Homo sapiens: one gene and its partner. The protein of the gene in region 1 interacts with the protein of each later gene in a biochemical or structural test. Each region holds a gene or a part of one and is shown on either strand. Other genes may lie near its edges.

What was found.
Region 2: the proteins of PDCD10 (region 1) and CCM2 form a complex in vitro, tested with the Homo sapiens proteins (one study listed by IntAct).

The regions. Positions count from the first base shown.
Region 1 is NC_000003.12:167,693,105-167,696,923, forward strand, and holds part of PDCD10 (programmed cell death protein 10), read right to left. Parts: intron 2,619-3,819; coding exon 2,492-2,618; intron 1-2,491. UniProt on the Homo sapiens protein: Promotes cell proliferation. Modulates apoptotic pathways. Increases mitogen-activated protein kinase activity and STK26 activity. Important for cell migration, and for normal structure and assembly of the Golgi complex.
Region 2 is NC_000007.14:45,059,004-45,062,822, reverse strand, and holds part of CCM2 (cerebral cavernous malformations 2 protein), read right to left. Parts: intron 1-3,819. UniProt on the Homo sapiens protein: Component of the CCM signaling pathway which is a crucial regulator of heart and vessel formation and integrity. May act through the stabilization of endothelial cell junctions. May function as a scaffold protein for MAP2K3-MAP3K3 signaling.

The DNA of each region.
Region 1 (3,819 bases):
ATTCCTCTCTTTATGTGACTCAAAAGAGAGTATCCAAACTAGCTAGGTATCCAAACAAGCTAAAATAGCATTTCTCAATGTGAATGACAAAGAATACTATTTTCAAAAGATGAATGTTTTCTTTTTCTTTCATAATTGAGATTTCATCAGTTGTGTTGAGGATCAGTACACAGACATTTCAACTTGTACATAATTCTGAACATATGTACTGCAAAATCTAAAAAGCCACGTATCATTATTATTCTCTAAAGTTATTCCAGTGACTTTCCAGCTTACAACTGAGGCAAAATTACCTTAAAAGGCTATCAAGTACCAGTACCTTCAAATGTTGATAAGCTGTCACATACGTCCCACCAATTCACAATTTAATAGCATATACACTATATACTTTAATCTTTCACAGCACATTAACAAAGTTATTAGAAAAACAGGACTACCATGACCAAAGATGTTACAGAGTGCACACAATTCTGATAGGTAGAGCCAGGCTCAAGGAGTGGTTTGCCCAAGGAAACAATTCCACTAAAAAACAACATGAAGAGTAGAAGTAATTTAAGGCCAGGTGTGGTGGCTCACTCCTGTAATCCCAACACTTTGGGAGGCCAAGGCAGGAGGATCACTTGAGCTCAGAGGTTAGAGACCAGCTTGGGCAATGTAGGGAGATGTGGTTATCTACTAAAAATTAAAAAAAAAAAAAAGAAATTAGCTTGGTGTGGTGTTGTACACCAGTAGTCCTAGCTACTCTGGAGGCTGAGGTGGAAGGACTGCTTGAGCCCAGGAGGTTGAGGGTGCAGTAAGTTATGATCATGCCACTGCAGTCCAGCCTGGGTGACAGAGTGAAGTAATTAAAAATGTTCAAGACATGAAATGCAGGACTGCGACTCCACTTTGCCATTTAGTATGCTTTATATTATGGGATATAAAAACTAACCACCCATCTATGGAATGTTAAGCTGACACCCATAACAGTCAAGGCTTCCCATAATTCAATATCCAACATTATTTTCCCATTGTACCAAAAAATAACCAGCAAATTAAATTATTTCACCTCTTTAAAAAAAAAAGCATTTACACTTAAAAAATGGAATGCAGTGGAATTCCCTCCTTAAATGTTTCTAGAGCTATTAAAAAACATTAGAGCTACTAAAAAACATGCATTTACAACATAGTTGATAAAAATATTCTCCTGGATTATGTAAGAAGAGAGACGGGGAACCACTGATAAGACATGGTATGCGATATTAATCAGACTGGGCTTCTTTCTCTCCTGCTTCAGAGGCTGGACTCTCTTCAGTTTTAGTTTTTCTGTTTTCTGCAGGTAAATCTTTATTCTTAGCTACTTTGGCTTGTTTTCACTTTCCTACTCTTTTCTCTTTTGTTTGCACTTTTTTGCCTGAAGATTTATCTTTTCCTGCTACCTTTTGGGGCTTCAATTTCCACTACTGAAAGAGCAGGTTTAGCTGACAACCACATCAATCTCCTTTTGGGATCTTCCCTCACTGTCCCATCAGCTGAGCTGACCGTCCTCTTGGGCATCCTGGAAGTGGGGAAGGCGCATATCAGATGCATGTGGGCCATGGCATGCTGAGGGCCTTCACAAAGCTGGGCTGCCTGGCTGCTGCCACTCCTCCCACTGCCCAAACTCCAAAAGATGAATGTTACTATTTATTCCAAGTGAGTCTCCTTAGGTTCTTCAAAGTTACCACATATGTCACAGCCTCTTCCAGAAAAAGACCTGCGCTAAATCTTTTCTCCCCAGCAATATCTACCTATGGTTTCACCAAAACCATGCATTGATAGTGACACTGCAAGTATTCCCAGCTTTCTTTGTTTTTTATCCACTGAGGCTGAAGAAAATTATCAGACTTTCTAGTTTAAAGATACTTATGTAGGGATTATGTTTTCACTCAATCCCCTACCCTCTCACCCTTCACTGTACTCCAGAAGAGTGTCCCTGGTCTGAGAACTACTGCTCTAGGATGACCCTTCTTGCTGCTGCTCACCAGCCAGCCTTCTGGCCCCATGAGTATTCTTGGTCTTATTTAACCTATATCCCCCAAAGGCAAGGATTTAGAGGCTATTTGGTCAGTCTTAGAAAACACTACTCATGCCTAAGAGTACGTTACTTACCTTAATGACTGCTGCTATTTCTGAAATAAAAATTATTTTGGTATATCTTACTACCAATCTCTAGGATATATCCAGTTTCTCTATTCATTTATCTGACATTTATATCTTCCCATCATTTATGTAGTTCAAACTACATTCCAGTTTATGCACATTTCATTGTTGTTTTAAAATTAAACATTCTAAAAAATGCTGTACTCTGAAACCAAACGCCATAAAGTTAATAAAATGTGGTATTTAAAAATTTGAGATTTTATTTCAAATAAGCATTTCAAGTTAGTCATACCAAAATTAAAAAATGTAGATGAGTAGTTCCTCGGAAGTACTTTTAAGAAAAGAAGAAACAAAACAAATAATTGCTTACTTGATTGTCTGCAGAAACCTCACTCTGTCATTGATCTCATCTGGGATCTTACTGAGAATTTGTTTAAGTGCTCGTGCCTTTTCGTTTAGGTCTTGGAATTCTGGCTCTGGTCGTTCAATCATATACTCTGATAAAATAAATACATAATAAAAAACATCCTGCGACTCTCTGCCAAATTCATCACATCTAAGAATTTCCAATGTTGGTCAAAGGCAGGTGAGGGAGGTGAAAGGCCAGATAATTAGGAAAGACAAGGTTGCAAAGCAGAATTCATTAGCGTTTGACTTAGTCCAGTAACAACAGCAGGGCTCCCTTCAAGTAAAGTATCACAAAAAGAAAGAATAAATATTTTCAATTTGGGACAAAAGGACATCCCATGAAATCTTAAAAAAAAAAAACACACAAAAAAAAAACAGATTTAAAAGGGAGGCTTAAGTTCAACCGTACTCTGACATTACATTTCCCAAGGAAACCTTAAATTAAATAATGAGTGTCATAACTAGTGCAAAGGTAATATCTACTTGCCAACTGGAAAGATTAAAAATTTAAAACCCCTATATTTAATATACATTGCTTCATCATATTAAAACCCCAAATAATCTAATAAAATCTTCTACACATTTTTGAAATCTCACTTAAAAACAAAAACACCAGCACAAATCCAACACACAGGCTGGGATCACAGAACACCAATTTTGGAAAGGAGACTTCACTAGATTCATTGCAGACTTGGAAGCATTACAACTCTACCAATTCATCAATATATTATGGCCTAATGGGCTGCAAATGCTCAACTCTAAATAATGATAAGGGCTTTCTTAAAATCATGGAATCAGTTAAAATACCTGCTTTGTGTTCTTCCTTAATAATTCTGGGAAATTATATGTCCATATTTTTCTAAATTAGTGGGAAAACTGCTACTAAACTTAAGTAAAACCAACGTCTAAATAATTTCAAGTAAAAAAAATAAGAAAAGTAAAAAGGATGGTTATATTATTCTCTTAAATCTGTGCTTGAAACACAGATGCTGTACTAAAGTTAAAAAAACAACAAAACAAAAACCTCATTACTTTCAAACTGTTGTTTGCTTAAAGTCAACACATTCCAAATAAGCTTATCTTTTAGTAAAACTGAAACTCACCAAACATAAAGGGGGGAAAAATTGAAGTATGCAGCATAAACAAAGTTCAAGTAATTAAATCTCACAAATATAAAAAGCAAGAAAAACCATTTTTCTATTTTATCTACATTAGCTTCCACTATCACTATCACCACCACCACCATCATCATCATAAGTGAAAGGGAGGGAGGGAAAACAGTAGGGAAGG
Region 2 (3,819 bases), on another chromosome or scaffold:
CAGGGTCTCACTCTATCACACAGGCTGGGGTGCAGAGGCGTGATCTTGGCTCACTGCAACCTCTGCCTCCCAGGCTCAAAGCAATTGTCCCACCTTAGCCTCCTGAGTAGCTGGTACTACAGGTGTGTGTCACCACGCCTGGCTAATTTTTGTAGAGACAGGGTTTTGCCATGTAGCCCAGGCTGGTCTCGAACTCTTGGACTTAAGCAATCTGCTCACCGCAGCTTCCCAAAGTGCTGGGATTACAGGTGTGAGGCACCATGCACAGCCTAGAAATATCTATTCATTATAAATTTCCCAGTCTGTGGTATCTGTTATAGCAGCACAAAACATTTAGTAAAAAGGTTTTTTTGGTCACACATGGCCATGAGGCACTTGGCTTAGCAAACCTCCATAATGCAGGGCCTCAGGTGTAGAAGGCTGTGGGCAGCAGCACTGTACCTGCTGTGCTCCTGCCTGCATCTTACCAACCACCATAACATTTTCAATGTTTCTGTTTTTTAAAATGGGTTGCTGATTCTTCCCAAGAACAGGCTTCTTGCACTCAACATTTCTCAGTTGTTCATTACCTCACACAGTTAAGTTCTCTATTAAAAAAGAATGAAATGGGACTTTCCAATTTCCTGTCCAGCTTGTAAAGGCTCAGAAGTCATCACTCCCATCCTCACAACAAGAAAGCTGGCAAACTTAAAATCAATGACTGTTCTCAGATCCATCAGATAATTGAGGTCACATGAAAAAACAATAACCCCAAAGATGGAGAGACAGATATGCAATGCTAAGAATCACAGCTCATTGCGGGGCAGAAACCCTAGAGCCAGCACCAGCAGAGAGGAAAGGGGAACTGACAAATGGCAGAGACTGAGCATGGACCAGTAGGAGACAAAAACTCCAGGGGAATAGTCACTGGGGAGGTCCCCATACCAGTCTGAGTTTTACCTCCATGAGCCCCACCAGGCTCTCAGGGTGAGACTGGAGAAACATCTCCTCATACTCTGGTAGGAGGAGGGAAGAATACATCATTTAAAAGTATAACCAGGCCAGGTGTGGTGGCTCATGCCCATAATCCCAGGACTTTGGATGGCCAAGGCGGCAGGTTTGCTTGAGGCCAGGAGTTTGAGACCAGCCTGGGAAACATGGTGAGACCCTATCTCTACAACAAGAACAACAACAGCAACAACAACAACAAAATAGTTGGGCACGGCAGTGTGCCTGTGGTGCCAGCTACTCAGGAGGCTGAGATGGGAGGATCATTTGAGCCCAGGAGGTTGAGGCTGCAGTGAGTCATGATGGTGCCACTGCACTCCAGTTTCCCAACCAACATATAAAGGGCTCAGAGGTCATCTCAAAAAAAAAAAAAAAAAAAGAAAGAAAGAAAGAAAAAGGCATGACCAGAGCATTCTGTTATCCTTAACAAAGGGCTTTCCTCAAGGAAAACTATTTTACCAGAGCCTAACCACCTAGGGGTAAGGAAACACCCAATTCCTGCCTCCTCTATCGTTTATGTCTCTCCTAAGGGGGAGGAAAAAAACAAAACTGAGAAGCACATGTGAAGGCCACGGCCCAGGGACACAGGTTCACTAAAACACTGAGACCTAATCCCAGGACTACAGAACACTTCCTCTCCCCTGAAAGCCACATCAACAGGACCCCTGTGTAATAACAGGGATGCACACCTATAAGAACTGCAGGCCTCAGACTCTATTTAAGAAGGAATCTTGAAGAAAACCCAAAAACAATGGAAGACAAAAACAAGGATACACAGGAGATTTTTATCCCCCAGCATCACAAGGGCAGCAAACAGTAAACACAGCCCAACTCCCAGCCAGCCAAACGTACCTCACACTAAGGCCTATTAACCTGACGCCTAAGTTCCTCATATCAGAACCAGACTCAGACATAGTGGAGATTTTGGAACTACCAGATTGGGAATTTAAAACAACTACGATTAATATGGTAATGGCTCTAACGGAAAAAGTAGACATCATGTAAGAACAGATAGGCAGCATAAGCAGAGATGGAAACCCTAAGCAACAATCAGTAGGAAATGCCAGAAAGCAAAAGTCCTGTAACAGCAATGGGGACTGCCTTCAACAAGCTCAAGAGGCTGGACACAGCCAAGGAGAGACTCTCTGAGCTTAAGAATACGTCAACAGAAACTTCCAAACATGAAAAGCAAAGGGAAAAAAGAACGAAAGAAAGAAAACAGAATATGCAAGAACTGTGGGACAGTTACAAAAAGTGTAACATATGTGCAATGAGGATATCAAGAGAAAGAAAAGAACACAATAACTATTTGGAGTAATGAGAGCTGAGAAGTTCCCCAAACTAATGTCAGACACCCATCCACAGATCCAATAAGGTCAGAGAACATGAAACGGTAAAAAGCAGGTAATTTACACTGAGGCAAATCACATCAAACTGCAGAAATCAAAGACAAAAAGAAAATTAGAAAGGAAGATTCTCTCTTTGCAGAAATCTGGGAATTTTTTCCACAGGAAAAAAACATCCTACCTATAAAATGGCAAGAACAAGAATGACACTGGATTTCTCTTCAGGAACCATCCAAGCAAGAAGAGAGAGGAGGGAACTATTTGATTCTGTATCCAGTGAAATTATCCTTCAAAAGTGAAAGAGAAATAAAGATTTTTATCAGAAAAACAAAAACTCAGGGATTTAACATTTCAAGAAAAGTTAAAAGAACTTCTTCAGAGAGAATGAAAATGATTTGGTCAGAAACTCTGATCTATGTAAAGAAGGGGAAAAGCATCAGAGAAGAAATAAATGTAGGTAAAATTAATCTTTTATTTTTCTTATTTTAATTGCTCTAACACATTAACAATTTGTTCAAAATAAAATTTGTGTATTGGGTGACTGTAGCCTAAGGATAAATGAAATAAATGACAGCAATGTTATAAGCAGTGGGAGGAGTGAACTGGGAATACTTGGTTACAAGGTATTTGCACTACCTGTGAAGCAGCACAGCATTATTTGAAAGTGGATTTTGATTAGTTGTGAATGTATATTGCAAACCCTAAGGCAACCACTAAAATAAATATATATATATACACACATACACATTTTTGAGACAGGGTCTTGCTCTGTTGCCCAGGCTGGAGTGCAGTGGCACAATCACAGCTCACTGCAGCCTCAACCTCCCAGGCTGAAGCGATCCTCCCACTAGTAGATGAGACTACACGCACATGCCACCAGGCCCAGCTAATTTTTGTATTTTTTGTAGAGACAGACGGGGTTTTGCCATGTTGCCCAGGCTGGTCTCGAACTCCTGAGCTCAATCAATCCGCCCGCCTCGGCCTTCAAAAGTGCTGGGAATACAGGCATGAGCCACCGCACCCAGCCTGTATTTTTTGTTTTTTCTTTCTTTCTTTCTTTTTTTTTTTTTTAACAGACAGGGTTTCGCCACATTGCCTAGGCTAGTCTCAAACTCCTAGGCTCAAGTGATCCTCCTGCCTTGGCCTCCCAAAGTGCTGGGATTACAGGCATGAGCCACCATGCCTGGCCAAAACTTTTAAACAAAAAATCAGCAAATTGAATCCAATAATGTATTAATAATTATACACCACGACCAGGCAGGATTTATCCCAGGTGTGCAAGGCTAATTCAATGTTCAAATATCAATCGTAGCGGGGGCAGTGACTCATGCCTATAATCCCAGCATTTAGAGAAGCCAAGATGGGTGGATCACCTGAGGTCAGGAGTTCAAGACTAGTGTGGCCAACATGGTGAAACCCCATCTCTACTAAAAATAAGAAAATTAGGCTGGTCATGGTAGCTCACACCTGTAATCCCAGCACTTTG